4 separate regions of the Homo sapiens genome follow, and regions 1, 3 and 4 are each linked to region 2. The links come from fine-mapping of genetic effects on gene expression. A gene starts in region 2. Each other region holds a variant in brackets. All regions are shown on one strand. Distances are between the middles of the regions. Region 1 has its middle 28 kb from the start of RASGRP3. Region 2 holds the start of RASGRP3 (RAS guanyl releasing protein 3). Region 3 overlaps RASGRP3 (RAS guanyl releasing protein 3). Region 4 overlaps RASGRP3 (RAS guanyl releasing protein 3).

Region 1 (8,201 bases), 28 kb after region 2:
TGTCATATTACTGATATCATCCCTCCCCCAAGGGGTGCACAGCACAGAGAAAGATACCTTCCCTGTGGGGGAAGGAGAGTGAACTGAACACCCTACTTTGCTATGGACCACAGCATCGGGCCCACTTCAGTGAAATCCAGTGCCAGAGCAGCCCTCATGATCCCAGGCTCTAGGCTAGCACCTGTGGATAAGGGCATCCAGGGCTACCCTAATGCTGGGCCAGCCCCTATGGCCCCAGGCTGCAAGCAGGCCTCTATAGCATCAGGCTGCAGCTCCATTCAAGCACCACACCAATACAACAGCACTAGGCTCTACACCCAGAGGCATGTCTGCCACAGCAGCTCAACCTCTAGGCCAACCCCTGCAGACACAGGCTTTAGGCAAGTCCCAGTAACCAGGCTAGCCCTTGTGTGGACTCAGGCTCCAGGCCCATCCTAGAACAAAGTGGGCCTCTATGAACTCAGGCTCAAGGTCCATCTCATGGACAGGATGGCCCCCATGAACCTAGACTTCAGGCCAGCCCCTGCAAACACAGGGTCCAGATTCACTCCCATGAACCCAGAATCGAGGCCCACCCCAGGAGATGCAAGCTCCAGGCCTTCCTGCCTGCTGACTCAGGCACCAAGGCAACTTGCCTGAGAATACAGGAGCAAGTCTGCCCTCAGATTCCACCAAACAACCCACCCAGAATCTCTAGATAGACTGGTGAGAGCTTTCCAAAGCCAATATGTAAAAGGTAGAACAGGTGCTTACTTCTTCATATGCATAGACATCAATATATAGCCACAAAGATAGTGAATAATAAGGGAAACACCACCACCAAACAACAAAATTAAGTAACTGACCCTAAATAAATGGAGATCTATGAACTGCCTGTCAGAGAATTCAAAATAATCATCTTAACAGAGCTCAGTGAGCTATAAGAGAATACAGATAACTAAATCAAATCATGAAAACAATATGAAAGCAAAATAGGGGATTCGATGAGGGTATAGAAACCATAAAAAAGAACAAGGCAGAAATTCTGGATCTAAAGAACATAGTGATGGAACTGAAAATTCCATAGAGAGCTTCAACAGTAGCCTCAATCAAGCAGAAAAAAGAATCAGTGAGCTCAAAGACAGATCATTTGAAATATTCAGCCAGAGAAACAACAACAACAACAAAGAAGAAGTAAGAATGAAAAAAGCCTATAGGATTTATGAAACAATATCAAGCAATCCAATATATACATTAGGGGATTCACAAAAGTAGCAAAGAAAGAAAAAAGAGCAGAATGCTTAGGTAAAGAAATAATGATAAGAAACTTCCCAAATCTGGAGAGGCAAATGAGCATCCAGATCTATGAAGCCCAAATAGCCCCAAGCAGATTAAATACAGAGATCTTCACCAAGACACATTACAATCAAATTCTCAAAAGACAAAGAAAAAACTTTGAAAGCAGCAGTAAATGAAATCGAACCCTTACGTTACATACAAAAATGAACTCAAAATAGATTAAAACTTAAACTCAAAATAGATTAAAAACTTAAACTTAACACCTGAAAACTATAAAACTACTACAAGAAAAGATAGGGGAATATCTTCTTGTCATTGGTCTCGGCAATGATTTCTTAGATATGACTCCAAAAGCACAGGCAACAAAAGTAAACACAGAGAGTTGAGATTGCATCAGACAAAAATGCTTCTGCACAGCAAATAATCAACAGACTGTAGAGACAGCCTGTGGGATGGTAGAAAATATTTGAAAACTATGTATTATATCTGATAAGGGACCAATATCCAAAATATGTAAGGAACTCAAAGCAACTCAATAGCAATAAAACAAATAATTCAAATTTTAAAATGGATAAAGGACCTGAAGAGGTATTTCTCAAAAGAAGAAATACAAATGGCCAATAGGTATATGAAAAAATGCTCAGCTGGGCACGGTGGCTCACACCTGTAATCCCAGCACTTTGGGAGGCTGAGGCGGGCAGATCACGAGGTCAGGAGTTGGAGACCATCCTGGTCAGGAGATCGAGACCATCCTGGCTAATACGGTGAAGCCCTGTCTCTACTAAAAATACAAAAACAAAATTAGCCAGGCGTGGTGGCAGGCACCTGTAGTCCCAGCTACTCAGGAGGCTGAGGCAGGAGAATGCTGTGAACCTGGGAGGTGGAGTTTGCAGTGAGCCGAGATCATGCCACTACACTCCAGCCTGGGCGAATGAGCAAGACTCTGTCTCAAAAAAAAAAAAAAAAAAAAAAAAAAAAAAAAAGAAAGAAAGAAAGAGAAAAAGAAAGAAAAGAAAAAAGAAAAAAACATTTAAAATAGAACTATCATATACTTCAGCAATCCCACTTCTGAGTATTTATCCAAAGAAAATGAAATCAGCATGTCAAAGAGATACCTACACTCCATGTTCATTGTGGCATTATTTATAATAGCCAAGATGTGGAATCAGCCTAAGCATCCATTGACAGTTGAATGGATAAAGAAAATGCGGTATATACAATGGAGTGCTATTTAGCCTTAAAGAATAAGAAAATTCTGTAATTTGCAACAACATGGATAAACCTGGAGACTATTATGCTAAGTGAAATAAGCCAGACACAGAAAGACAAGTTCTGCAGGATCTCATTTTTTGTGAAATCTAAAAAAGTTGAACTCAGTAACAGAGAGTAGAATGAGGATTGCAAGGGGCTGGGAAGAGGTGAGAATGAGGAGGTTTTGATCAAAGGGTACAAAATTTCAGTTTGACAAGATGTATAAGTTCTGTTGTACAGCATAATGACTACAGTTAATATTGTATTGTATACTTGAAAATTGCTAAGAGGATATATCTTAAATGTTCTCACCACAAAAATAATGATTGGTATATGAGGTGATAAGTATGTTAAATAGGTGATTTGATCTTTTTGTAATGTATACATATATCAAAACATCATGTTTTACATCATAAATATATACAATTTTAGTTTGTCAATATCTTAATAAAGCTTGGGGGCTGGAAATAACGATAAGAAAAGTAAATCTCTAGTCCCTATTGAGTCTTCCGAAGACTCTAGTCCCAAGTGACAACTGACTGCAACCTCACAAATGAAACTCCTTAATCTGACCTTCTCCTGAATTTCTGGCCCAAAGAAATCATGTGAGGTAATAAATGCTTACAGTTGTTTAAAGGCACTTAGTTTTGGAATGATTTGTTACACAGAAATAAGTAATAAAATACCTTTCTTATCTTTACTAAAATGCATAATGGTCAAATATACAAAAGTTTGCATTTTGTATTTGCTATATATCATAAATATTTTCACTGTAATAAATATTCCTTTTTTTTTTGGAGATGGAGTCTCGTACTATCACCAGGCTGGAGTGCAGTGGTGTAATCTCGGCTCACTGCAACCTCTGCCTCTCAGGTTCAAGCAATTCTCCTGCCTCAGCCTCCCTAGGAGTGGGACTACAGGCATGCACTACCATGCCCAGCTAATTTTTGTATTTTTAGTAGAGATGAGGTTTCACCATGTTGGCCACAATGGTCTCAATCTCCTGACCTCATGGTCTGCCCCCCTCGGCCTCCCAAAGTGCTGGGATTACAGGCGTGAGCCACCGCGCCCGGCCTAAATATTATTAAATATTCCAATGTCATGAAATATTCTGTTGTATGTCATCAAACATGGTTTTTTCTAGATTCCTGCACAATATTCTATGCTATCTACATAGTATAACGTATTATGTCTTAAAAGTAGATGTCTGAAAAAGTAATGTCTCAATTGCAATGACGAAAGGTTGGTTGAGAAAAAACATATATGCATATATATGCAAGGTAACTCTGCATACTTTGTTAATACTTTCATTCATTCACCAAATTTAAGATTAGGAAGTTGGTATGTGTCATGCACCTGATCTTATGTCTGGTAATCTGGGAGAGGTAGAAATGATGAAGACATTGTTTAAGGTCTCAATCACACTTGCACAGCACTTGGCTTTTGTCTAAACCTACCTAAAGCCCCAAACAGAGAGTAATCATGTTATACCTGGTATGCATAATTTGAAAAACATGTCTAATCTCTACCACATGTAAATTTGTGTCCTAATGAATCTCATTACAACAAATGATACAAAATATTACTTAAACATTTACTATATGTAAGGTTATATCTGGTTCCCAGAGGGATTTCTTTAAAATAGGTTTATTGAAACATAATTCACATACCATACAATTCACTGCGTTTTGCTATATTATATAGTTAATTTTTAAATTGTAATAAATATATATAACATAAATTTGCTATTTTGACCATTTTTACGTGTACTATTCAGTGGTATTAATTACATTCACAATGTTGTGCAATCATCACCACTATTTGCAAAACTTTTTTATCACACCAAACAGAAACTTTACAACTATTAAGAAATAACTCTCTATTCTCCCTTTCCCCCCACCCCCAGCCACCTCTAATCTACTTTCTG[T/A]TTCTATGAATCTGCATATTGTAGATATTTCACATAAGTGGAATCATATAATATTTGTTCTTTTGTGTCTGGATTATTTCACTTAGCATGATGTTTTCAAGGTACATTCATATTTTAGCATATATGAGAACTTCATTCCTTTTTATGGCTGAATAATTTCCCATTGCATGTCTATGCCACATTTTGTTTATCTCTTCATCTGTTGATAGACATGTGGGTTGTGTCTGGTTGTGTCTGCCTTTCAGCTATTATAAATAATGCTGCTATGAACATTAGTGTACCACAGAGAGTTTTTTTTAAAGCACAAAATAAGGCCTAGACATGAAGGAATTTATAATTAGGTTGTTGAGAGAAGAAACTCTTGGAAAATTAACCACAGAGGCAAATAGTAGTTGAATAAATTAAAGAAACACCACCAGACATGGGATTAAATATATAAGAAAGTATTTATATAGTATTACAGTATATAAATGTTATAGCATTTCTGAAGAGGGCAAATTCACTCAAGACTGGTGACAGCTTCATCATCAAATGAGGAAGAACAAAAATGTTGTTCACTTCATAATTTACAAAGTTTCTGACATCACAGTTTCAGTGGGGTTGAAAACATGTGATCAGATTTTATGTGTTTAAAATCTGAAAGAGACTTGAGAAAATAAAGGTGGTATGTGATGGAATACTCACTGAGAATCTTGGCAGTGAAATCAGAGAATCCAAATGGGTCATCAGAGGGGTGCCGCAGGTTCAGGTAGATTGGGTGTAGTTTCCATGGCAAAGAAGAGATATGGATGTTTTAAAAGAAAATATCCTAGAAACAAAAGAAATTGAGAGAAGACATTGAAGAAGGATGCATTCATTGACCAGAAGGTGAGGAGACAGTTTCAGATAGAAAACACAGACATGGGCCGGGTGCGGTGGCTCACGCCTGTAATCCCAGGACTTTGAGAGGCCAAGGCGGTCGAATCACTTGATATCAGGAGTTCAAGGCCAATATGGTGAAACCTCGTCTCTACTAACACAAAAAATTAGCCAGGCATGGTGGTGCACGCCTGTAATCACAGGTACTCAGGAGGCTGAGGCAGGAGAATGACTTGAATTCAGGAGGCGAAGGTTGCAGTGAGCCAAGATCGGACCACTGCACTCCAGCCTGGGTGACCAAGTGAAACTCTGTCTCAAAAAAAAAAAAATGTGCACACTCCAAGGTTGGGGCACCTCTTTGAGTAGCATGTGGCACAATTACCCTATGTTTTGTCTTTGTCAGAGGGCCTCCATTACCAGAGAAACAGCCCTAGTTCCCAGCAGAAGAAATAAGAGAGTGTTCCAGAACAGTCTGTCCCCCTGGCCCAGCCTCCTGTTCCTTGGGCTACATACATAATCTCAACTCATTTGTAGGTCCCTGATTCTCACTGTTTTGTGAAATCAACCAGTGGGACCACTCAACCCAGATTTCTTGACCTTCCCTGAAGGCCCATTCATGCCTGACTTGGTCACTGCTTCCCCCTCTTTTTTTTTTTTTTTTTTTGAGACGGAGTCTCGCTCTGTCACCCAGGCTGGAGTGTAGGTTCACGCCATTCTCCTGCCTCAGCCTCCCGAGTAGCTGTGACTACAGGCACCCGCCACCAACACCTGGCTAATTTTTTGTATTTTTAGCAGAGACGGGGTTTCACCGCGTTAGCCAGGATGGTTTCCATCTCCTGACCTCGTAATGCACCCGCCTCGGCCTCCCAAAGTGCTGGGATTACAGGAGTGAGCCACCGCACCCGGCCCAGTCCTTCCTCATTTTCTATTGATATATTTTTTTAATGGTAGTCTCTGCAGGATCCAACAGTTAATGGCACTCACCAAGAGATTTTTCTTTAACTGACTCGGAAATTTGTATGTGCAATTTGAATGTGAAATTGCACACATTCCCTCCCTTCCTTTTCCCCACCCTAGAGGCTGTTGAGGATCATTTCTTGAGGCTCAGTCTCTAGTCTTCCTCACCCTTTCTCCAAGGAGAACTGGACAATCATGCACAATTCTCATGTGCCTGCATATTTAATTCTAACCATTCTCTTCACTTTCCTCTCTTCTACTTCTTAGCCAAGTGTTACTTCACAGAAATCTCACCCTATTTGGGAACCAAAAAAAAAAAAATCCAAAAAATTTCCAAAAAAAATTGCCCTACTTGGGCCGGGTGTGGGTGGCTCACGCCTGTAATCCCAGCACTTTGGGAGGCCGAGGCGGGTGGATCATGAGGTCAGGAGATCGAGACCATCCTGGCTAACATGGTGAAACCCCATCTCCACTAAAAATACAAAAAAATTAGCCCGGCGTGGTGGCGGGTGCCTGTAGTCCCAGCTACTAGGGAGGTTGAGGCAGGAGAAACGTGAACCCAAGGGGCGGAGCTTGCAGTGAGCCAAAGATTGCACCACTGCACTCCAGCCTGGGCGACAGAGCGAGACTCCGTCTCAAAAACAAAACAAACAAACAAACGAACAAAATTACCCTATTTGGGAACCAACAAAAAAGAATGGCTACACATTAACAGCAGAACTAGTCGTACTTTGTCCTTCAGGAAAAGGCAAGCACAAAGTTTAACAGTAAAATTAGACATAAAAGCCTAAAAAAGGTCTCTCTACCTAAGGGTCACTTAGATAAGGCAGTCCCCTTTAAAAAAAAGAATTCCATTTACTTCCTCATTTTTCGTTGGTAAATTTGCTTTTCCTCCAATATTAAGAAACAAGATAAATATGATTTATCTCTTACGCTTGTCCCTGACTCTAGTATAGCACCTGGCACTTCCTGGATTCTTTACTAGTGTTTGTTGCTTTGAATTCAAGGTGGTTTTGTTGATCCAGTATATACTTTTTCTGTTTGGTTAATTAACATATTATTAATATATTAATGTGATATAATTATTAGCATATTAATATATGATATAATGTATTAATGTAGAAATAGTACATCAATAGTTAGATTTCATTGAATAATTTCAAATGCATACATGTTTAGAATAAATAATATATTATAAATACATTGTAATAATTTCGTTGTAGATACGTGGCATTTTAGGTGCAGTATGCAGTCACTATTTATAACTTTGTTTCTATGGGGAAAATGTAAAGTGAATTCAGAGGGCCAAGAAAATTATTAAAAACAAACTTTTGGACCATTACCAATTTGTAAATCATGCAATGAATGGTCATTATTTATATATGTCTTTAACTTTTATTTTGATTTCAGAATTTTCTGACTGGTTAAACTCTAGTTTCATAACCAAACCCTCATGGAATAAGACAAGAACCAAAAATGTGATCATTCCAGTTGGCTGCAACTCATTGCCAGGATTTCAGAGACCTATGTTTCCAGGTCTCTGCCATTGGTGGGGCCATAAGAACCTACAGTGTCTTCTGATTTTATCCACTTCCACCAGTTCTATTTTTGTATCTCCGTATTTAGCACACAGAAGCTATCTTTATCACACCAGCTGACTGGCATGAGAGTCCCCAAGGCATAGTAGTTATAGAAGATTATTATAGCATACTTCCTATCCTTCAAATAAGACAATGCAAAATGCAGAAAAGACATCAGCAAGTGGTCACAATGTTGGAAGTATGTGCGTGTGTGCATGTGCACTTGTGTGTGTTTCCATTGCTAAAGATTTATTTCTTTGTACTAAGTTGTAGGCACTATTAGGAGCATAATGTCTATAATGGTTTTTGGAACTCGATTTTAGGCTGTGTAATTGAATCTATTCCTATAC
Region 2 (8,201 bases):
AGCCTGGCACTTGGAGTCAGTAGACAAGAGATATAGTTGAGCTCTGACAGTTACTTTTCCCATGACCATAGACAAGTCACTCATTTTCTCTCGTCCTCTATTTCCTCTTTGAAAACAATGGTGATGATACCCTCCCTCTTTCATGGGATTATGGCAAGGTACAAGAAAGTGCCTTATGCCGGCATATATAAATGCAGGGGTTCGACTTCTCAATACCAAAGATGAGCTCAAAGATCAAAGCACAGCGACTCTGCACACCACAGACTCTGAAGCTATAATAATCACTTGAAACAGCAAAAAAATCCAAAGACTTCAAATCCCATAGAGCAGTGGAAACATGACACAGGAGCTGTTAACTCCAGGGACTATAAGTGAGCAATCAATACCAAGGGAAAGGAGGATCCAGGAAAGTTAACTTTTTGGAAGCAGATGTCTTTGAAACACACAATTGGGCAAAAACAAAGAAACAAAATAGGCATTGTATCCCAGAATGTGTTTCCTTATTGTAAAAGGACCCCAAAACGAATCAAGCATTTTATTTTCTTTCAAATCAGCTCCAGAGTATGACTTGTGGACTCTGTCGTGATTCTGAGTCCACTTCACGTGTACCCATATAACACCCCCTGTACAAAGCCAATTTCTACAGAAGTGAGCAATTCCTAGCAAGGATTGGAGGCAATTCCCAGTGGTTTTGGTCTAGCAAACCACATCACTGACTACTACTGAGTTGGGCTTAGTTTTAGAGGCAGCAGGCAGGTGGAATTAAAGATTAAAAATTCTTCTTTCATGCGGGCTGGGCGCAGTGGCTCACGCCTGTAATCCCAGCACTTTGGGAGGCCGAGGCGGGTGGATCACCAGGTCAGGAGATCGAGAGCATCCTGGCTAACACAGTGAAACCCCGTCTCTACTAAAAATACAAAAAAATTAGCCGGGCATGGTGGCGGGCGCCTGTAGTCCCAGCTACTCAGGAGGCTGAGGCAGGAGAATGGTGTGAATCCTGGAGGCGGAGCTTGCAGTGAGCCGAGATCTCACCACTGCACTCCAGCCTGGGCGACAGAGCGAGACTGTCTCAAAAAAAAAAAAAAAAAAAATTCCTCTTTCATGCTATAAATAGCTTGATCTTCAAAATGTGTAATCTTGCCAGAACGACCTTGCAGAAACACTGATAACTTCCTCAGAAACATCCACACATGGCATACTTGCTTGATTTTCCTCCTGATTAATAAAAGGTTCCCTGTTGATTACATACTACCTGGTGCTCTTTCCCATTATCTCCAACCCTAATTTTGACACTTAACCTAAAGTGGAGGAATGTGGACAGCCAAATGACATTTTTAAAAGGATTCAGGAGGCAGGTTTCTTAAGGGCTCTGCAAGTCTGATGACCCAGAAAATCCACAGGTTTATGGCCCACCCGTGAGACAGTCAGAGCTTTAGATATGCAACTGGTGTGTGGAGAAGTAGGACTCAGGGTAAATGGCAGGTGCAGGCAGTGAAGAAAAGCATACCTCTCCTCCCTCACCACTGCCAGCTAGTCCCCTGCCCCGTGACCCACCCCTTACACCCACAGCTCAAAAAAACAGCGCAGAGTGGCAGAGTGCATGGTTTCTATTCATCAACAACCTACTCGGACAACCAACCTTCCAGGCTGAGCAAAGGGGATGGGTCTGATAATAGCTTTATCAACACTAAGCCAGCTATTTGGGGTGGGGCATGGGTGGAGTGGCTGTCCTCCAAAGGAAAGGAGTGACAGGAAAACTGGAGGGAAAGGCCAGAAGGGGCATGGGAGCCGTGTGCTGGAGGTTAATAACAAAGTTCCCGGTTGCTGTTCTTACCAACATCAAGACCGTCACTGAACTATTTTCAAAGAGAAAAACATGCCACCAGCCAGCGATCCTATAGAGAGAGCTTGGGCTTGGACTGTCACAGGGGGAAACCTAGCCCTTCCTGTCATGGAGAGCTCGAAAAGGGCATAACACACATTGTGTGTGTAATCATATTGTGCTGGAAATACTCTCATTTGCATGTTGTGAGTTTTTACATTTAAATGTGTGGGATTCCACTTTTATTTTTTAATGTATACAGGTTCTACAGTCAGATCCAGGTGTCCCTCCTGTCTGTGTTACATATGGTCAAGTAACTAAGGGTGTCCCTCCTGTCTGTGTTACGTATGGTCAAGAACCTCAGTTTCCTATCTATAGAACTGGAATAATAATATGTAACACATAGAGTTATTGTGAGGAGACTATGAAAATAAATACACTTGTTTAGCGCATCATTTGGCAGAGTAAGTGCACAATAAAAGTAAGGGATTGTTATTAGCGTTGAAATTATGATGGAAGCCTTGAGCTCTCTCTTCTGGCTCTGCACCGTAACTCCGATAAATTTGCTACAGTTTCCTCATCTTTGATACGAAAGAGTTAAATCGCACATTCTATCATTCCTATCCAGGTCAAAAAGTCTTTGAGTCAATGGATGTACTATCTGCAAGTAAAATCATTATTTTTTATTATTTTGCTATTAATATTTTGAAAAGGCATGGGTTTTTCAAAGGAGCCTGTTGGCTCTCAAAAATACAGCAGTTGGATAATTCAACTGCTCCCATTTAGACATTCCATTTTATTATGGGAGGCTCGATGATTCCGGAGACACAATTTCACCAGAGGGTTCTCTTCCACTATCAACCTGTGGAAAATCTGAAACTATACCAGGAACAAACTCCCTAAAGAATGACTCAGGAGGAACCCCCTCCCCCAGCAGTCAGACAGGGAAGTCACAGACCACATGGCCGCGGGCTGACCCAAGGACCTCACACAAATGCCATACCGAGGAACAGAGAAGTTGGGACTATTTTTCCTCATTGGCCACTCTACATTTTGTGGATTCTTCTACATTTGAAGGAAAAGAAGGTGGAGAACTTCTCAATGTCAGACTAGCCATTTGTTTAGACAGGGCATCCGAAACTGCTTCCATCAGAGAACATTGGTTGGTGCGGTACTCAAGACCCACTGTGCTGAGGGAAACTCGATCGCAGAAGTGCCGTGCCCTGGGTCATTTTTAATCCATTCTCCACAAACAACAAAGGATGGTAAGGGTGGGGAGAGAACAGTGTTCCCTCATGGCAGGGGGCAGAGGGCGAAAGAAAACCGTATAGCTTGAGCCTGTATGAGAATCCATTTGTCACACGAGGAAACAAGCGCACTCCAGGTTGTCCTAGGCTTATCACAAGCAAAACAACTATTTGGTGAGACTTCAAATAAAAACAGCCCCTCTCTGCCCACCCTCCTCAAGATCCACGCGATCTCCAGAAACAGGAACCTGTTTGGTTATCTCCCTGCAGCCTCTGATTCAAAGACCTGTCACTTTCAGAGCTTTACGTCATCAGTTTAGAGCTCTGCCCTCTCTCTTTTCCCCTTTTGCCTTTCCTCTGAAGCATTCTGTCTGGTGACTACCAAGGAAGGACAAAAGTCACCGAACAACAGCTCAGTTCCAGCATGGTGCCTGCTTTGCTGCTCGCCCAAGCGCAAGCACCATTACTGCTGAATGAACCTGAGAAGGAGCCGGTTCTCTCCGTAATTTGGATGCCAGGCCTCCCAGAGTTAATCATCAGCTGCAGGCAGCACTTTCCCAGTCAGGTCATAAACAAGGAAAAAACAGCCTGAGTATCACGAAAACACTAAAATAAGGAAGACCAGCGGCAACCGAACATTTTAAAGTAATGAAGGTGAAGGAAGACCAGGGGCAACTGAACATTTTAAAGTAATGAAGGTGAATTAGCTTGTTGGGGGGAAAAAAAGTCGCTATAAAATACAGCTTTCAATTAGTTGGAAACCATGCAAGAAATCTAAATATGATTTCTAATGTGAATCTAAATATTATTTTGTCAGTCTTCTATATTGCAGACAGTTCTACACAGTTAAATGAGATATTCTCAAAAATTGAATAGGAAAAATCAAATCAGCCATACAATAAATTCACAAGTTACTTTAAACAACTACGTTTTCAGGTTTCAGTGGTAGAAACAGATTAAAATCAAATCTAGTCATCAACTCACTTCAATGAAGTCTCTACTTCATAACCTGAACTTGACTTTGAACCTAAACACCATGGACTAGAAAAATCTTGAACACTGGGAAACAAACTTTCTGTTTCCTAGACAGGAATGAAGCCATATGCCCCATTCATCCTCAAAGTTACAAGACACGTTGCCGAAAATAACAGGTTCTAAAAAAGGGCTGTGAAAACACCAATGGCTGTTAACAGGTACAAATAAAATATCTCCTTCTATCGTGCCAGAGGGAAACCAAAATCAAAATCAAAAGTTGTTGGTGGCTTGCAACACACACACACACACACACACACACACACACACACACGGAGAGGGAATGAAAGAGAGAGAGAGAGAGGAAAGTTCTCCAGTTACTTACTAGGGTGGTTTTGTCGTGGTATTTTTCACATCAGCACTCTGCCTGTCCAGCTGCCAAGTGCCGGAGCACGCCGAGAGCAGCTGTTTCCTTCAAGCTGGGGCTCTGAGTCTTAACCAGTCACATGTACCTCCTGATAAATACCGCCCGCCACCGTGCCAGGAGGTCAGAAACTGAAGATCATTCTTCTCCTCACTCGCAAACCACCTCATAACCCCTGAGTTGGCTCAGCCATCTCATGAGCATGCAGAGCGGGATATTCCACAATTTGTTTTCCTTTAGTGACAAAAGCCAAACAGCTGATAAGTCACACTGAAGGGCAGGTCACTGCAAGTGGAAAGTTAAATGTGTTTGCGTGTGTGTGTGCGCAGAGGGGGAGACTGGCAGGCTCCATGCTCTCTCATCTCACTCAAGTTTCACTGGGGCTCTCGAACGGCAAGAGAGAGGATCACCAACTCGCACAGCAGGTGGAAGTTGCTCTGTGTTAACCCCGGAGTACAACTGTTTGGTTTCGTTTTCTCAGAATCTCAGGCTCCAGTTTGTTAGACGAGCCACAAGCCTGACTAGGTGGCTGGTGCTGGGGAAGGCAGACCCTCACTCACCATCTAAGAATGCTTAGGTTGGACTTCAAAGGCCGGGGCTGCTAAGCCAAGGGACGCTGAGGGGCAAATATGGGAGGGGTTAATGAAGACTATCAAAGGCAGCTTTATCTGAAGAGCTCTTGGAAGTGATTTCAGGTAGCTTTAGACCAAACTTCCGCATTGTTATCTGTTGAATTGCATCGAGCAGCTGAGATTATCAGCCGGCGAGTGTGAATGCAAACAGAAATTATCACCAAGTTGACAACGCGCTTTACAGACGCACTACTGCCCCCTTTGGTGTGCTGGGAACTTGGAGCAAACTGCCGTTTTCTGTGCTGCTCGCAAACGTGGCAAACCATCCCTGATGTTTTGTTGAATTCATATGTCTCACCTGAGCTGATGTTCCCACCCTTCCCTTTTCATCCTCCCTTCCAAGGAAAGCCCTTGAAGTATCTGACTTTACGTAGTGTCTGACCTTGGATGTCTGACTTCTTGGTATAGTAAGGGTGACACTTCCCCGAATCAGTGTCTGAGCCTGCCCTTCAGGTAGAGATATGACATAGAGGCAGCCTATTTGGCAAAGTGAACATCCAGAAAAGATGGTTGAAGTCCCCCAGGGGATTTCTGAACCATAATGTGCCTGTTAAACTATTAACCCTGATTTTTAACACATAATATCTTACTCAGTGTAAGAGCCTGTGTGAGTAATCTTTTATATTTAGGCTTTGTCTCATAATTATTTACAGTGTTAATCAAACCAGAAATTTCCCTCCATATAGAGGATACAGTGTTTTCTAGAATAAGAGAAAAAGACAAAAAACCCTCAGTCTCACCATACTATCAGGGCAGTAATTTGTTGTCAACTTGTGAGAGTCCGAAGAGCAAATGGGAGAATTTTGTAAGCACCAAAACAAATCCCTTCCTCAGCATTTCAAGTTAGTAATAGAAATAAACTTCAGATATAAAAATGCAATGCATAAAATACACATTTCCCTCACAGGCATTTTTGTTTATGTGTTGATGTGACAATCTTCAATTAGAAACAGAAAAAGAGGCCTACTGAGGATTTGAAACATTATTTTGATTTACTTACCCCCTTGTATTTACAGTAATAGAAACTTTTGTGATCTGATGGCATCCATCCATCACTTTGTTTACCATTGACTGGGTTAATTATTCTGATGATCCATTGCATGCCACATAAAGAAACAGGGACTTCTAGAAACTCTTCAATGCCCAACAGCGACAACAGCCTCAGGAAAGTTAAGTTGTATTAGTCCATTCTTGCATTGCTATAAATACTTGAGACTGGGTAATTTATAAAGAAAAGAGGTTTAATTGGTTCATGGTTCTGCAGGCTATGGAGGAAGCATGATACTGGCATCTGTTCGGCTTCTGGGGAGGCCTCGTGAAACTTACAATCATGGTGGAAGGCAAAGTGGGAGCAGATGAGTCACATGGCCAGAGCAGCAGCAAGACAGACAGGGGGCACTTCTAAATGACCAGCGCTTGCCAGAACTCACTATCAGCTGGGTGTTGTGGCTCATGCCTATAATCCCAGCACTTTGGGAGGCTGAGGAGGGTGAATCACCTGAGGTCAGGAGTTTGAGACCAGCCTGGCCAACATGGCAAAACCCTGTCTCTACTAAAAATACAAAAATTAGCCGGGCGTGGTGGTGTGCTTGAACCTGGGAGGCAGAGGTTGCAGTGAGCCAAGATCAAGACCGCACCACTGCACTGCACTCCAGCCTGGGCAACAGAGTGAGACTCTGTCTTAAAATAAACAAATAAATAAAAGAACTCACTCACTATCATGAGAACAGCACTAACAGGATGGTACCAAACCATTAATGAGAAATCTGCCCCTAAGATCCAATCACTTCCCACCAGGCTCCACCTCCAACACTGGAAATTACATCTCAACATGAGATTTGGGTGGGCACAACATCCAAACTACATCATAAGTGTAAAGCAGGAGTCCCCAGCCCCCATGCCATGGACAGGTACCTGTCCATGGTCTGTTAGAGGCCAGGCTGCACAGCAGGAGGTGAGCAGCAGTCAAGGGAGCATGACCATCTGAGCTCTGCCTCCTGTCAGATCAGCTGTGGCATTAGATTCCCATAGGAGCATGAACACTATTGTGAACTGTGCACGCGAGGGATCTACACTGCATGCTCCTTATGAGAGTCTAATGCCTGATGATCTGAGGTGGAACAGTTTCATCCTGAAATCATCTCCATCCCCTCATTCCCGGTCCATGGAAAAATTGTCTTCCATGAAACTGGTCCCTGGTGCCAAATACATTAGGGACCACTGGTGTAGAGGTTCTTTTCTAGTTCTATAGCCAGGAGAGGAAGGGATGGATCCTCAATCCTCCCTATGAAGCAAACTGTTAACACAGAGGCCAAGACCCAGGACCCTTTCAGTCAGAGTCCAGGAGTGTGACTAAAGGTTCTACAATAACACAGCCTTGCAAAGAAATGGGGGAGATCCCATCTTTCTGCCCACACTCCCTACCAGTTCCAAGCATTGTCTTCGACTCAAGAAGAGGTGCCCTCTTCCTGTCAAGAGGCCACCTCCTACCTCGGCTTTGTGTCTCACCCTGTGTCTCCCACCTGCTTAGGACTCTCGACAACAACCACGCCTTCTCTTGCTCTCAGCGTGCGCTCATTAGCTAAACATGCTCACGTTCTCACATTGTCTTTATATCCTAACAACAGTCTTTCTGATTTTTTGCTTTTTTTTTTGAGACGGAGTCTCACTGTGTTGCCCAGGCTGGAGTGTGGTGGCGCGATCTCGGCTCACTGCAAGCTCCGTCTCCCAGGTTCAAGCCATTCTCCTGCCTCAGCCTCCTGAGTAGCTGGGACTATAGGCACCCGCCACCACGCCCAGCTAATTTTTTGTATTTTTAGTAGAGACATGTATTTTTAGTAGTAACATGGGGTTTCACCATGTTAGCCAGGATGGTCTCCATCTCCTGACCTCATGATCTGCCCACCTTGGCCTCCCAAAGTGCTGGGATTACAGGCGTGAGCCACTGCCCCCAGCCAGACTTGCTCTTTTAATTACTGCCCTAACTCCTGCATTCCCTCCACAACTAAACTCCTGAAAAAATACTTGTCTTCACCATCTCACATCCCATTTACTCTCAACCTACTTGTGGCTTGGCTTTTTTTCCCTCACTTCACTGAAACTGC
Region 3 (8,201 bases), 79 kb before region 2:
CAGCTTGAACTGTGCTAGGCCAGTAAAAGAAGTAGGGGGATAGGACTGATACAGTTGTCAAGATGATCAGTGGGGGAAATGTTAAAAATAAAGTGGGCATTGCAAATCTATAGAGACAGAAAATAAATTAGTTGGCTGGGGTGAGTTGGGGGAGAATGACTGCTCGTGGGTGTAGGATTTCTTTTTGGAATAATGAAAATGTTCTAAAATTAGATTGTAGTGATGGTTGCACAACTTTGTGAGTATACTAAAAGCATACTGAAAGTATACTAAATTGCATACTTTTAAATGGGTCAGTTTCATGGCATATGAATTACATCTCAAAGCTGTTTTTAAAAGTGGATGTTATAGAAACAAAAAAAGTGTTTCAGCAGAAACTTACAATAAACCTTGTATGACCAGAGATAATGGGTGGCCTCCTTATGCACTGCCTTCAGTGAGGAAGGAACTAGGGGAATTTCTGGCTAAAGGTCACTGGAGTTTTTCTCATCATGGGAAATGTATGGAGACGTGTGTTTAGGTCTCCTGAAGAGTGGAATGTGGAGGACCACCCATAAGACTAAAGAGCACTGGCTTGATCCAGTAGGATCTCTGCCTAACCCAATATTCTGTTTATGAGAACAATTCGACAGGGTGGCAATGGCTGTCCTCCATGACATTGCTTTAAATGTTAGGAATATCATGCCAATTTTCTCAAATCCTTTCTCTTAATACACTATAGACTGTTAACTAATAAATTTATCTAACTCCATCTTGAATCAATTTCTGTGTCAGCATACTCTAACAAATTCCATCTGCATCCTACTTTGCTTTGCATGATTTTGCTCATGCGGAGGCAGAGCCTGGTTTAGAGATCCTCAAGGGCCTCGTATCTCTGATTCTCACCACCCCCTTTTCCATGATGCTGTCAAAAGCTTCTTTTGAGCAGAATGAAAAGTTTCCAATTCTCCTTTATCTAAAAGTCTTTTGCTTCTACTGCCTTTCTTGAGTCTGGGCCCTGGTTCTAGCTTGGAAAACCAAGCTGATCTGTATCGTGTACTGGTATTTTGGATATATAGTCATGGGTTTCTGGGGCATCATTTCAGTACGCACACATGACAGCCTTCAATAGGTTTCAGAACTTGATCTCGTTCAATTTTTTTAAATCATGATACTGAGATCCATAAAGAAGAAACATATGTCCAGGGTCACATAGCTAGGCAGTGGCAAGACTAAAAGTGATACATGTCTTCATTCCCAACCATTCTGCTTTCAGAACTACCAGGCTGCCCCCCAGACCCTCTGTAACGCTCATCTCAGCACTTTCAGCCTCCTTCTTCTGGTTTTCTTTGTGGGTTGACCTAGCACTTACCTCACCATCCTGTCTGGTCTCTTCTCCTTCATCCTGGTCAAGTTCAAACTCCGTGCCCCGGTCTACAACATCCACACCAGCATGCACCCTGGGCTTCTCATTTTCCCATTTGGCAAAGCCTTTGTCCTTTGCTGCTTTGTCATGGAACTTGGATTTCATTTTAGGGAAGGTGTGGGACCCCGAGTCCCCCCAGCCAGCCTCTGACCAGACAGGTTCAGTCTGGGTGGCCTGGCTGGTGGTGGCCCTCTGTAGCCTCACAGAGATCTTGCGAGAAGAGCCTGTAACCAGTGTGATGGCTCTGCTGTCTAAATCCCTGTGTCCAGCAGTGACTCCAGGGAACTCAAACACCTCATCCTGCGCTGGAAGTGAAAAAGGGTGGTGATTATTTGACATCTGACTGCTTGACAGCAAAGCATCAAGGTTAGTGCAAACAGCACGAGTCTGGCATGCAACATTCTAGAGGAACCGACAAGGGACAGAACTCAATTAGCCGCAGGCAAGTTACATATTCCTGAGACTAGAAAGCAGAGAGAAGCAAGGATGATTCAAGGGTTTAGCTACTGCTGCTCACCCTAAAGAAGGCCTTAGCGTTTAGAGTGACTGACCGGGTTTAGACCCAGAACCTAAATGAGGTCCAAGTGTGAGGAGGCAAGCAGAAAGAGACCATGGCAGCAAAGAAAGCAGAGGGCATTACCTGGGGGCAGCGAGGGGCTTCCAGGCAGTGACCCATGACCACTGCTCAAGGAGGGCGCCCGGGCAAATCTCCTGCAGGCCAGAACCAGGAGGTCTTTGCACTGTTTGTGACAATTGGCTCCACAGTCTGAAAAATTCCAAGGGTGTCGCAGATGATTAGTGTGTCTGATGTTGATTCAGTTTCCAGGGTGGCACTTGATTTGTCAGCCCTCCCCTCCCCCACCCCAGTTTCTGTGTTGAATTTCAGAGTTGAGCTCAGGCCCATGGGGTGTGTCTAGGATCTGGAAAGAGGCCATTGGTCTGCACTTGCCTTCCTGAGGTTCCGAAAATTCTCTTAGATTTGCTCAGCTTGGTTCTGTATGCAATTGAGGACCTAATGAGCAATTGTGCCTAGGGAGTAAATAGAGTCCAGCCTGAGAGGTCAGTTGCCTTTGCCCAAAACTAAATGCAAATCAAATGGGGTTGAGAGTCTTTCCCAGGCTTAGACGGAATCCCCACAAAGAGAGCCTATGCCAGCATTAGGGCAAGAAGCCTCAGCTTCTAGTCTCTCCCAGGCCAACTGCCTCTGATCATTTACTGTGAGGTGTTCCTCCACTCAGCACTTGTCTGGATTTTTTTTTTTTTTTTCGAGATGGAGTCTCGCTCTATTGCCCAGGCTGGAGTGCAGTGGCGGGATCTCGGCTCACTGCAAGCTCCGCCTCCCGGGTTCACACCATTCTCCTGCCTCAGCCTCCCGAGTAGCTGGGACTACAGGTGCCCGCCACCACACCTGGCTAATTTTTTGTATTTTTTAGTAGAGACGGGGTTTCACCATGTTAGCCAGGATGGTCTCGATCTCCTGACCTCGTGATCCACCCACCTCAGCCTCCCAAAGTGCTGGGATTACAGGCGTGAGCCACCGTGCCCGGCCTTGTCTGGATTTTTTTACTCTTCTTCATTTTCCAAAACCTTTCAGGGCCAGTGATTATATCTTCTGCTTCCAACAGAACACAAGATGGGCATATGCTCAGTAAATATGTTCTATATTTGCTTATGGCTTTGAAACAGCGTGCAGCAGAGTCTGTGAATTGCCCATTAGGATGTTTTAGATAAGACAGTAGAATGTTAATTACTACTTGGGGTAGAAAAATGTGGCCACTTCAGATGGTGGTTCACAATTATTTCCTATGATGAGGGTCCTGCACTTCACTGAGAATCATTGAATAGAGATGATCATTTCTCTCCTACCATCAAGGAGGACCTTTCTAACTATTTCCAGTACCCATTTTCCCCTAAGTGACCTTGTTTCAAATAGTCTTAATGATGTATTCAATCTATTTCAATTCATTTTTTTTTTCACTTTATGTGCCATTAAGAAAATACAAGAGATAATCCAAAGGTGTAATAGATTTTCATCTTTATAAAATTGCGTGTGTGTGTGTGTGTGTGTGTGTGTGTGTGTGTGTGTATTTTAGGGTATGAGGATAGAAACCAGAATAAAACTAATGACTCACTGCTGGGCAATAAGATCTTGCAGTATCTTTGCTGCTTGAAAGTAAAAATCTAAGTTAGACCAAGGCAAGTGATAGAGAAGCACTAATGGGAAGGTCCCTCTGAGCACTAAACAGTGGCTTCCATTGAGATTTGGGAAGCTTTTTGTTCATGCAAAATGAGGACGAAATACTGGAAAACGACTGGAGAAAAAAGGCATCCCTGGGGAACAACATTCATCTGAAGGTATTCTGTGATTAAGATGTTTCTTTTTGTAGTTTTATTATATTTTTTCAAAAGCTTTATAAGATTATTAGAAGAGGCCGGGCGCGGTGGCTCACGCCTGTAATCCCAGCACTTTGGGAGGCCGAGGCGGGTGGATCATGAGGTCAGGAGATCGAGACCATCCTGGCTAACAAGGTGAAACCCCGTCTCTACTAAAAATACAAAAAATTAGCCGGGCGCGGTGGCGGGCGCCTGTAGTCCCAGCTACTCGGGAGGCTGAGGCAGGAGAATGGCGTGAACCCGGGAAGCGGAGCTTGCAGTGAGCCGAGATTGCGCCACTGCAGTCCGCAGTCCGGCCTGGGCGACAGAGCGAGACTCCGTCTCAAAAAAAAAAAAAAAAAAAAAAAAAAAGATTATTAGAAGAACCATATAAACTGTCCACATAAAGTGTCCAGCAACTTCTTAAACAACAGTAATGTATACTTGATCATATATGTACAAGTAGCAACACATTCCTAAATGCTTAGTATACATGCATATTGCATTTGTCAAATATATTTGATTCAATTGTTTATAAACTTAATTAAATGGGAAAGATAGAGGAAAGCATTCATTGAAAAGGACAAAATTACGTTTTAAGTTTTCTCCTCGTTTTTTGTCACCATCTATGTGATTTAGTAGAGAAAGGAATAGCTAAGTGTGAGTGGGAAGAAGTGCCTGTGCATTAGAGAAATAGTGTGTAGGTGTTTTTCTTTGAAGGAAGAAGTTCTTATATTCAGTATTTTAGCTAGGCTTGTCCCACTCAGAATTCCCACCTTAACTGGATGCTGCTGATTCCAAAGAACTAGATTTATGTGTGTTGATAAGAGTGGTTTGTAACAAGCTATAAAATTCCAATTTTAGCTCTCCAAAACTCCAGAAACTCCTCCTCAGAGGCAATCATTCTCAGTTGCCGTTGACCCAAAAGACTGAAATTCCGAATAATGGCAAGAGCTTTTGTAGTTTAACCAGACAAATTTGATTCTTACCCAAAATGTCACATTTTAAAAATTGTAACAAAATAACATTGATTTACCTTTGCATTTGTATCCTTGCTTGATTATGCCCCAGAGCTGTAACAAAAGACAAAGGAATGTCAGGGAATCTGAGGATAGATCTGGAAGGAAAACAAGGCCACTGAAAAGGAAGTCCTGGGAAGCTTCAGGACTGGCCAGGCACAAACAGGATGTAGCCACTTTTAACACCCTTCCTGCCAGATAGAAGAACCCTCTCCCGGCCCCTTCCAGCTGTGGTGATAACATGAGTTTC[C/G]TTTCCCTTTTCTTTCTCAGAGCCAACTGGGAGCCGGGATGGGAAACTACTAAAGTTTGATGCACCAGACTTTGGCCTGATGCGCTCTCAGCAAAATGTACAGAGGAGATGGCCACTTGGTCTTTGGGAGCCCCTGGCTCTCTCTTTTTAATGACACTAGCTGCTCTTAGCGCCCACTACAGGAAATGAAGCAATGGAAGAAGCGCACCTCATGTGAAAGCATTTGGATTTTGCTAGGCTATTTTCTGAGTAGTATTTGTCCCGTGGAAAAATACAGAAGAGGAAATGATCTTAGTTATTCATGTCTTCATTCTCCACATTTGCTCTATGTTTGGCCTGTGCCAGGGTTGTAGGAGATGTCGAAAAAGCTCAGATTCTGCCAAGCAAGGAGTCTGTGACATCCTCGTGGTTAACAAGTAGGAAGTGACAAATCCCTGAGGGGAGATGTGAGGGCCTGCAGTTCCACGAGGGAGCGTTTGCCCAGGGGGTTCAGGGACATCCTGGTGGTGGTGTCTTCGCTCTCCAGACAGACTCCTTCTAAACACCATAAAGAAGAGGGCCTGGCCAGGCGCGGTGGCTCACACCTGTAATCCCAGCACTTTTGGAGGCCGAGAAGAGCAGATCACGAGGTCAGGAGATCGAGACCATCCTGGCTAATATGGTGAAACCCCGTCTCTACTAAAAATACAAAAAAATTAGCTGGTCATGATGGTGGGCGCCTGTGGTCCCAGCTACTTGGGAGGCTGAGGCAGGAGAATGGCATGAACTCAGGAGGCGGAGCTTGCAGTGAGCTGAGACCGCACCACTGCACTCCAGCCTGGGCAACAGAGCAAGAGTCCATCTCAAAAAAAAAGAAGAGGGCCTTGCCATGCCCTTCTGTGCCTCCCCACACCTCTTGCATGGGGTGACAGATTCACCAGAGGCATACAGTATGGGTAATTAAATGGGCTTAGCTCAAGTTGGAGAAGAACTATTGCTAACCTCTTTGTGTTTGGGTTAGGTGGCTATTATCTACTTAATAAAATAATGTTGAAAAAGCAGGGCCCACTGGGACTGATGGGGGTGCCGTTCACAATGTTCACAATGTATTATAAGTGAACAATGCCCCCACATGTGGGCAGCATGGCCCGCTCTTCCAGAAGAGTAAGTCACAGCCAATGTGAAGTGACTCAAGAGTATACAAAGACTGCTCCTTACTTCTTTTTGACAAGGAACTTCCACAAGTAGAAAACTCAAGGATTCCTTTGAGCCTTAACAGCTATTTGGTCCTTCAGAATACATATTAAAATGCAAATGTCAGCCGGGCGCGGTGGCTCACGCCTGTAATCCCAGCACTTTCGGAGGCCGAGGCGGGCGGATCATGAGCTCAAGAGATCAAGACCATCCTGGCCAACATGGTGAAACCCCGTCACTACTAAAAATACAAAAATTAGCTGGGCATGGTGGTGTGTGCCTATAGTCCCAGCTATTCAGGAGACTGAGGCAGGAGAATCACTTGAACCCAGGAGGTAGAGGTTGCAGTGAGCCAAGATCGCGCCACTGCAGGCGACAGAGAGAGATTCTATCTCAAAGAAAAAATAATAATAATAAATAAATAAAATGCAAATGTCTCCTAGGACAGAGCAGTATTTTGTCTTAGGGACAGGAAGGATTATCTGACAACTAAGTAGAAGCAAGGATGGCTGGAAGAGAGAGGGGCATGATCCAGAAAAGGGCAGTGGTGGCCAGGATCATCACAGCTTGATCTTTATGATAATCTAGTTTGCTTCTCTTTTGTAAAAGGTGAATGTGATGATCCAGGAAGTTAGATAATTTGCAATCTCCCACAACCTGGAAATTCTTTCTCTGGAGCCCTTGGTAATGATAATAGCAATAATAATGATGATAGTTAACATTTCTTGAACTCTTGCTATGTGAAAGGCACAGTTAGGCTCTTTATACATATTAGCTTATTTAATTGCTCATGATGTCCTTATGGTGTAGGTAATAATATTTTTCTCATTTTTACAGATGAGGAGACTGACCTACAGAGAGGTAAAGTCCCTTGGCAAGGTCTCATAGCTAGTGAGGGAAAGAAGAATGTGTCACTTGAGGGAAAGACAGGAAGCCATTGCCCCTGCATACTGTTGTGTGAGCAAAGGCACTGAGGTGGGACAAGAAAGGATAAGATTTAAGAAGAGACATCCTAATATCCAGATATGTTACATTATTAGCATTGCTGCAGGAACTGCTGAAAAAGATACAGTCAAGCAAGGGTGCTGGGGGTGGGGGTGGGGAGGTAGGTTTGCTAATGCTTACTTAATAGCCAGGAACAAACAGTAGCTAGGAAGAGGCACTGGGTCAGTGTGCCTGCCAAGAACAGTAGAGGATGAACTCATGTGGATGGGTATGCAGGAGTATTTCCCACAGTCCTTTGATTTGAGACCACCGGCTGCTGTCATATTTGGAGTAATTGTGGTGTAAGGCACACTGGACTGAGAGTCAGGAGACCTGGGTGTGACTCATGGTTTTGCTGCTAATGATCTGTGTGACCTTGGGGGAAGTCACTTAACTTCTCCAGACCTCAGTTTCTTCATCTACAAAATAAGGGAATTACTAACACTCTTTCAGTTCTGGAATTCTAATTCTAAAGTAAATCTTCTGCAGAGCAAGTCTGTTTGTCTTCCTTAAACTTAAAATGGAATTTATTTTAAAAGCAGATGGTTCCGGCACTGGAACCATTCTCCCACAATTCCTTTCAATGACACATCTATAGAGCTATAGTTATAAATTCCTTTGAAAACCAATGGGCTTTTTGACATGAGTGTCAGTAAAGATCAAATCAAATCGTACCAATAAAATTAAATATATTTTAAAAACAAAAACAGCTGTAAAAATTTTAAATGAGTTAATTTCAATTAAACTCTCAAAGTATCAAGGAATACATAAAAAATGTGTACTCCGAGCCATGTGACGTGCAACGTGTCTAATAGTATTTTATCATGCAACAACATGGTGGGTAAGTATTAACTCCCTTTTACAGATAGAAATAGACCCAAAGATGGTGAATAACTTGGTCAAGGACATAGAGTTAGCAAGGGCAAAACTTTAACCCAGGGTTCCAGACTCCAGGTCCAGAGCTTTCTACTTCATCACAGCTGCATCAAGAATGTAG
Region 4 (8,201 bases), 35 kb before region 2:
ATGATCCGCCCACCTCAGCCTCCCAAAGTGCTGGGATTACAGGCGTGAGCCACTGCGCCTGGCCGACCAGTGATCTTTTACCTCCTACTTCGGCTAGTATTTCCTTGCAAGTAAAGGTGGGTGGGTCTTACCCTTCCTCTGGTCTACAGTTGACAGTTTTAGTAAAATTCAGGACAATCAGTTAAATTTGAATTTAAGAGAAACAATGATAAATTTCTGTATTGTAAGTATGTCCCAGGCATTATTTAGGTCATACTAACACTAAAAATGATTGTCAGAAATTCAAATGTAACTGGTCATCCTGTATTTTATCTGGCAACCCTGCACTGGTTTAACTCTGGTTTCTATAGTAATCAATTTAATAAATAACTACTCCCATGTGGGTTGACTTTCTTTGTGCAACGGATAACCCAAAATGCTGAGGTGGATATGAAAACAACAACACAAGGAGCATACAGCTGAAAAGTGTATAATCTAGTAGCAGATATGACGTGTATGAATGTAGAATGTAGTCAATTGTGCTACTCACATTCGTCTGAGTCAAAAGACTGAGTCAAAAGACCAAGAAACAATTACAGAGGCATATGCCATGTGCTATAAGGAATTACAATGGGATATGGGATGGGGGAAGAGGCAAGCAGCATTCCTGACCAAGAAGACTAGGAATGGTACTATGAACATCTGAGAGGGCCCTGAAGCAGAATTTCAGTGAAGGGAATATGACCAATGGATGGTGGTAGAAAGGTGCAGAGAATGTTCCAGAAACATTAAGTAGACAGTTTGACTGGGGTATGAGCTGTGGGCAGTAAAGGGAAAGAAATATGGAGGGCAGTGAAACTGGAGAGACAGACCCGGGTCCATCCGAAAGGCCTTAAATACCAAGGTACAGAGACTGAACTCTGTTCTACAAGCAACTTGCCTCTGAATAGAGGAAAGTGAGAGCATCGAGAGATCCAAAAGAGATGAAAGGAGAAAAGGCTCGTACCAAACATCTCAATGCAAGTGCACAGCAGTTCATCTAATGTTGCTGCTTTCCCAAGGCCACTTGATCCCATGGTTATTTAGCCGTTGTCAAAAAACTAGAGACATTTTCAGCATCAGATAGACCATCTCCATAATCATGCAAGTCAGCGATGTTAGTGCCTAGTGGTGACCTGTCCTTAGTTGTACTTCAAGAAAACTCTAAAAAAAAAGAAAAAAGAGAGAAAGTTATTAGACTAGAGTTCAGACCCCACTAGAGCATCACTTTCCTACCTGAAAAGATAATGACTTCCATAGACTGTATCTTTGTACAAGAAAAGTATCATAGTGACTGAGATTACATCAACCTTTTATGATGCCAAAATACCTGCTAAGCTGTTCTCGGGGATGGATGCTGCTTGGAGACCATGGAAATGTTCCCTGTTATATACCATCCCACTTCACTGCTGAAATTTTTTAATGCAATGTTTTATACTTTCCTTATATCCTTTTTTTTGATTGTTTTTGTTCTTGTTTTTGAGACAGAGTCTCACTTTGTCACCCAGGCTGGAGTACAGGAGTGCAGTAGTGCGATCTCGGCTCACAGCAGCCTCGACCTCCCGGGTTCAAGCAATTCTCCCACTTCTGACCCCCAAGTAGCTGGGACTACAGACACACACCACCACTCCTGGCTATTTTTTGGGTTTTTTTTTTTTTTTTTTTTTTGTAGAGATGGGGTTTTACCATGTTGCCCAGGCTGGTCTCAAACTCCTGAGTTCAAGCAATCTACCTACCTCAGCCTTTCAAAGTGCTAGGACTACAGGTGTGAGCCACTGTGCCCGGCCACCTTTCCTCATGTTCTTAAGTGATAAGATATTCAAGAATATTATAAATGTTACTTGGTTTAATATTAATAAAAGAATATGTAAGGAAAAAATTTTTAGAAGCAAATATATTTATAAACATCCTCAATGATTACATAAATATTCAACAACTGTAACAGATTCTACTTGCCTGAGAGTAAGATTATTCTCTGCAGTGGTAAAAATACTACTGTTAATTTATTGAACACCCACATTATGTACTATGCACCATTCCGAATGCTTTGCATATATTATTGAACTTGACCTTCACAACAATGCTGTAAGGTAGTAATTATTATTCCCAGTTTACAGATGAGGTGATGGGATTCACAGTGATTTAGCAACTTACCCAAAACCATGCAATTATTAAGGCCTAGAGTCAGGACTCCACTATAAAATAAAGCTTCTGTGTTCCCTTTCTTCTTATTACTTCTACAAGCATGGATATCACAAACCATCATAGTTTTGCCTGCTAATCTAGTGTAAAGGGTATCACTCCTCCACATCATCTCAGAAAGAAGATGTAAGACAGATTATCTGTTACAGAGACAGAAGGAAAATGTGAGGATGAGAGCTATCCCACTTGCCAGCACTGTCATGGGGAAAACGTGATTGGCAATAGCCTCTTATAGTTGCTTATACTCAAAAGCATCGCTGCTGGATAGACATTATCACTTTATTTTACAGAGCAGGTCCTTGATGCCAGGTCCCCATAGGACTTGGAGCAGGAGGGAGGCTGTCATGTTGTAAGACATTTATCCACTTTAGACATTTTAGTAGGTAAATGCAGCCATTGAGGATTCATCTCGTGAGCTGTTTAAAGTCAATGTCTATTTTACTCTTGAACTTTATTTATTCAACTGGCAATCATTGAGCACCTGACCTATGCCAGGAACTTGGTTAGGCATTGAGGCTGCCAAGATGAACAAATCATTGTCCCATTCTTACCTTCAACAGGCTCATAGTCAACTTCAGAAAACAAACATGTGAATGAATAGGAAAAAATACCTAATGTCCATATGTATGGTTGTATTAGTTCAGTGAGACCACTGGAGTGACATTGGAATGAGTCTGTTCACCAGGCACATAACTCTGGGGAAAAAATGTTTGCCCTCTATTAATTCTGTGAAAGAACCAGATTCTTGTGCTGAAGGTACCACTCTTAGAACATAAAATAAAGGGTTATTTCAAGTGTTCAATAAAAACAGCAGAAACGCTGGATCAAACGCTTTCCCAATTCTGCTGCTGAAATGATTTGTGAAAGCAGATTATTAAAGTCATCTGGAACTAACTTTTTTATATCTTTTAACAAAGTTACCTTATCTGTAAGGCCTTTCCTGACCTATTTAAAACAACGCACCTCTCAGCTCTCACCCACCTCTCACTTGGCATGTCCTACTGCCTTTCCTGGATTTATTTTTCTTCATTACACTTAACACCATCTGACAAACTATATATTTTACTTGTTTATTTGTTTTTAAATCTCTATAGTGTCATAAACATAAGCTCCAAGATTGTAGGGATTTTTGTGTTTGTTCTCTGGTATACACCTTAACACCTAAGGTTTTGCTTCTCACATAAAAGATACTCAAAAATTATTCACTAAATTAATAAACGAGTGGATTAATGGGTGAGGAAATGAATATCATGAAACTTGTCAGAGGTTTGTCATTGAATATGAGTATATTTATGTGAGTGTGTATAGATACCATACATTTTTAAGAGACTTTTTGAAGTTTGTTTACTAAATCAGCTTTAAGTAAACATCACTGGGACAAAAATTTCTGCCAGTTTTCTAAACTTAATAGAATCTGCCTATATTCATCATTAGAACTTGCCTTTTCCAAGACATTCTGGGGCAGAACTTCTCTGATTCCTCTAATGTAAACTCTATCAGTACCCTTAAAAGTCAAGATTGAACAATTAACAAGTTTGATTACCTTCATGTGTATACAGACATTTTTTTTTAGCCTGTTACTCACGGAAGAGTAGACATATTACTTAGAACAAATAGGCCTAGACTAAACTGGTTTCTCAATTCAAAACCAAAATTACTCAGCTGAGCTGTCTGGGGAAGGTGTTCACATCCCCATAAGGGGTTAGAGATAACCTGGAACCAAAGACTCATCACCACGTTTAGGGTTATATTTCTGATCTGCAAAGAAACTGGCACACGACGGGCCAGGTGGGC[C/T]GGGCTATCAGGTTACAATCTGTTTCTGCAATCAGTAGATGTGTCTGAGTCTCTGCTCCACCTTCTGTCACCTGCACATTTACCTGAGATCTCATTTCCTATGTGTGGACATTATTGTGTCTACAACTACCTTTTTCAGAATAAGGCTTCTTTATCACAAAAGCAATATACACTTATTATTTAAAACAGGACATTAAGGAAAAAGTTATCCCTAATCTCATCATACAAAGATAACTCCTATTAACATCATAGCACGTTTCTTTTAGTTTCTCTAGGCATATTTAATTTTTATTAGAATTCTTACATAATTTATGACAATTTAAAGAAATACTTACCTGTTGTTTCCATACAGATACAGTTCCAAATCTGAAAGAATTTTAAGGGCAGCTAGCATCATTGGGAAATGCATGGAAGAAGCAGTCTGTAGAACTGGTTTATTCAACCTGAATGATAAGTATTTTGGAGAACCTGACAAAAGAACAGAAAGAAACCCCCATATAGAATTAGATCATGATAACCCCAAAGAATCCACATTGTGTTAAAGCATTTTCAAAAACTTTGAGTTATAGGTGGTATTTGAGATTTTGTCTAAACTTCACCCACAACATCAATTAACAAGGGCAAATATTCAAAATAGTTATTTGGTAAGACAATTTTTTTTTAAATCAAGTAAGCTTTTTGCAGCCTATTAAAAACCCACATATGCAACAAAACCAAGTTCTATACACATAGTATAAACTACTGTTTCATGCAAATATATCAGTGGATTACTCATTAAGAATTTCCAAACATTGACTTTGAAATGTTAGTAAATCCTTAAAACAGTCTGTGGTCATGATCACTAAACTCTGACCCTAAATCACTACTGATTGTCTCAACATGAATGTCAATGTTATTTTAGAGCAGGTTGTTTAGTCTCCCAATGGGGCCTTAAGAACTTGCTGTTTGTTTAGGACTTGCTGTGGTGTTGATAGGTACTCTCTGGCGGCCATGAAAATTATTGTTCTCCAGCATATACATTTTCTCCCAAGTCTGAAAGGGACACAATAAGCCAAATTTCTCCCAGGGTTTGAATTATTTCTAAAAGAAAAGTGTTATTTTTAAAGGGCAATAGAGTTTTGTTGGGTGTGATTTCAAAGGCTACAATATGTTCTTGTAGCAAAAGGACGTTCATTAACATGACTTGTGAAGCCTCTATTGTCAAAAAACATCCTTCTGAGGTTGCCTAGGACACTAAGAACAGTGCTCCCAATTTTAGAAATAATAAAAGGTAGCCAATTCCATGTAACTGTTCATTAACAGATATAAATGAGCATACCAGGCTCTTGACTCAGAACCTCTCCATTAAAAAAAATCGGGTTTCAACATTAGGTAACTGAATGGGGAAAGTCTGACTTATCTCTGAGTAAAATTCCATAATGCTGCGTACTTTACTAGACTGTTTAAGGAGTTAGTGAGGTCACATAAAGTGAATCCATCACGGAGCCTGCAGAACGCTGAGTGCTCAGGGAAAGGGTCTCCTTTTACCTGCACTACTTCTTCCCCTCCCATATTAAAAGTCTTTTAAGTTGAGGCCTGAAGTAGAGGACCAATTTGTAGAAGCGAAAGGGAGAGAGGTGTTCATTTAGAGAAGAGAAAAGATATTCGAAGAAAAAATACGATGACACTGGAGCACCTATTAGGGGGCCAAGCAGCCTCACCAGCAAGGGACTCCAATTCTCAAAGGTTCTCAAGCCAAAGTTAGGTCATGACTGTCAGAGATGTTGTAGACTAAATTCCCAGACGGTATCTAGGAAGTATGCCAAAATGACAGGGAAGCTTTCTCTTGGCTCTAGAATTGTAGGATTTATAAGGTGAAATATTGTAACTAGTAAGTATTCAACAAATCGTTTTGAAATGATGTTGGCCATATTAGAACTTTCAACAATTGTCTTGTCTATCACATTGTCTCTATTCCAAGATAAAAGAATTTCTTGAAGATCCTTCCCTGCCAATGGCAGTTATTATCTTTATGCATAAATGACTACATAAATATCTTTACATTCATATGACCTCCATATGGAGACAAAGAGGTTTCTCTAAATGACTAATCCTTCATGAATACAAGTGTTAATTGTTACAAACCTTGAAGTCTTAAAGATTAATGCCAAAGATGTCAGCATTCATTGTTCTGGAAATATGCAAACTTAATTTCTCTTTATCACCACAGACATGAGATTTTTTTTTAAAGTGCTGTGATTATATTACCTGATACTCCATAGGAGAATTAAGATTGAGGTTAGTAAATGAAATAATAAAAACTCTGAAAGACAATTAATTTATTTGATAAATACTTACTGAGGATCTACTAGACACCAGACACCGAACAGAATACTAGAGTGGCTGGTAGAAGGGGTTGGTGTCGGGGAAGTGAAGGATAAATGGATAAGCAAGACAGATACAATCCTTGCCTCTATAGTCTAGCAAAGAATTAAAGGAACAATGACAATAAAATATCTTATGGAGCACAGAGCAGGTAGGGAGGGGCACTAATTTAGTCTAGAAGCCTGAGGAGTTTTAGCTTAGTAATGAAGATGAAGTCTTTTCAATTATGAGAAATCGAAAAGACATTTACAATGACTAAAGTGTTATGGCAAGAGATGAGACTAAAACGTCAGTGGAAGTAGCTCATGACAGTATTGTAAGCTTTAGTAAGGAGTATATCCTTTATCCAAAGGGCAACGGGAAGCCATTGTTTGAAAGGAGAATGGCATGATCATATCTGGATTTTTTTTTTTTGAGATGGTCTTGCTCTGTTGCCCAGGCTGGAGTGCAGTGGCATGATCTCAGCTCACTGCAACCTCCGCCTCCCAGGCTCAAGTGATTCTCCCACCTCAGCCTCCCAAGTAGCTGTGATTACAAGCATGTGCCACCACACCTGGCTAATTTTTGTATTTTTAGTAGAAACGGACATTTCCCCATGTCGGCCAGGCTGGTCTCGAACTCCTGACGTCAAGTGATCCACCCACCTCAGCCTCCCCAAGTGCTGGGATTACACGCATGAGCCACCACACCCTGCCTGATTTTCTTATTATTTCATTTCCAATGGTATCTTAACGTCCTCTTCACCATATCAAGCAAACCTAGGTGAAATGGGAGCTAGGATCTGTGCCCTTGTGAGGACACCACCTAACAAATGCCAGCCTTGCTTTAGTTCTGAGGCTCAGACTTATGGAAAGTGTAACTAGACCATAACAATAGAAACTCATAATTGCTTCTTGAATGCAGGGGAGATTTGCCACAAACATTGTTCCAGAAGTTATCTGAAGTAATTTTAGAAACATGACATGGGTAGATGATACAATAGCCCAAAAAGCAAGGAACACTAAACTTCCTCTCAAAAACAACAACAATAAAAAACAAACAAATACCTCCAGGAGAAGAAAAACATCAGCCTTCTACTCTTGACAGAAATAATCCTGATAATTCTGGTTCCTTTCTTCTCTTTTCACAATGGCTTTTGTACATTTTCTCCTCTCGATAAACGTCAGAATGGTATCCATCATACCTTCTGGCAGATGACCGTGTCTCCTTTTTAGAGTAAATGGAAGTTGCCAGACAGAAACTTCCTTGATTTCCTTCCATAAAAATGAGAAATTTACCCACATGGATGCCCTTTTTGGGGGGTCTCTCCTGCTATTGCATTGAAAGAAGTGGCCCTCTTCTTTATCCAAGGTCAATCCCTCCACCTGTGCATGGATCCCTTACTCTTGTCCTCCCAGGGACCACGTTACGTGAATTAACTTCTCACTCTTCTGCCTCTTCCTCCAATATTTTTTTTCCTGCTAATTCTTAGCACTTAAAGATGCCCAGGTCTTAACTCAGAAGTCCGTAATGGATATCTAGAAGTTAACTCAAAATTTCCCCTTGATATGATCAAGGGAAATCATTTAAAACAAAATTTCTCCTTGGAATCTCAGGCATCTCTAAATCAATACTGCCAAAGTGAACTCATCATTTTCCTCCCACAAACTTGTTTCTCCTCCCCTCCACTCTCAATTTCTCAATCGCAGGGGAATGGCACCATCAGCCAACCAAATATCTAGCTAGAAATCTGGGAATTATCCTTGATTCTGATCATTCCCCATAGACAATGGATCAGTAAATCTTTCTGAATCTATTTTCAAAAGAAATTCTGCCACCAACCA

Evidence for each region. PIP is the estimated chance that this variant, and not a neighbour inherited with it, causes the effect.
Region 1: its variant is fine-mapped to the expression of RASGRP3 in monocytes after interferon gamma (Fairfax 2014, PIP 0.95).
Region 3: its variant is fine-mapped to the expression of RASGRP3 in monocytes (TOPMed, PIP above 0.99).
Region 4: its variant is fine-mapped to the expression of RASGRP3 in whole blood (TOPMed, PIP above 0.99).

The regions. Positions count from the first base shown.
Region 1 is chr2:33,444,883-33,453,083 of GRCh38, reverse strand. It overlaps a transcript of RASGRP3 not described here. Among named protein-coding and RNA genes, the nearest start is that of RASGRP3, 28 kb to the left of the region's middle. The variant T/A (reference allele first, on the strand shown) is at 4,457.
Region 2 is chr2:33,472,933-33,481,133 of GRCh38, reverse strand. It overlaps RASGRP3 (RAS guanyl releasing protein 3), which reads right to left and starts at 4,485. Exons shown (of 18, transcript NM_001139488.2): 1 at 4,427-4,485. RefSeq lists enhancers at 1,200-1,369, 4,830-5,149.
Region 3 is chr2:33,552,181-33,560,381 of GRCh38, reverse strand. RASGRP3 (RAS guanyl releasing protein 3) reads right to left here. Exons shown (of 18, transcript NM_001139488.2): 15 at 4,815-4,851; 16 at 2,046-2,171; 17 at 1,352-1,710. It overlaps RASGRP3-AS1 (RASGRP3 antisense RNA 1), which reads left to right. Exons shown (of 4, transcript NR_146505.1): 4 at 5,068-5,337. Among named protein-coding and RNA genes, the nearest start is that of RASGRP3-AS1, 13 kb to the left of the region's middle. The variant C/G (reference allele first, on the strand shown) is at 5,048.
Region 4 is chr2:33,507,991-33,516,191 of GRCh38, reverse strand. It overlaps RASGRP3 (RAS guanyl releasing protein 3), which reads right to left. Exons shown (of 18, transcript NM_001139488.2): 2 at 4,350-4,482; 3 at 986-1,182. The coding sequence starts at 1,055. Among named protein-coding and RNA genes, the nearest start is that of RASGRP3, 35 kb to the right of the region's middle. The variant C/T (reference allele first, on the strand shown) is at 4,015.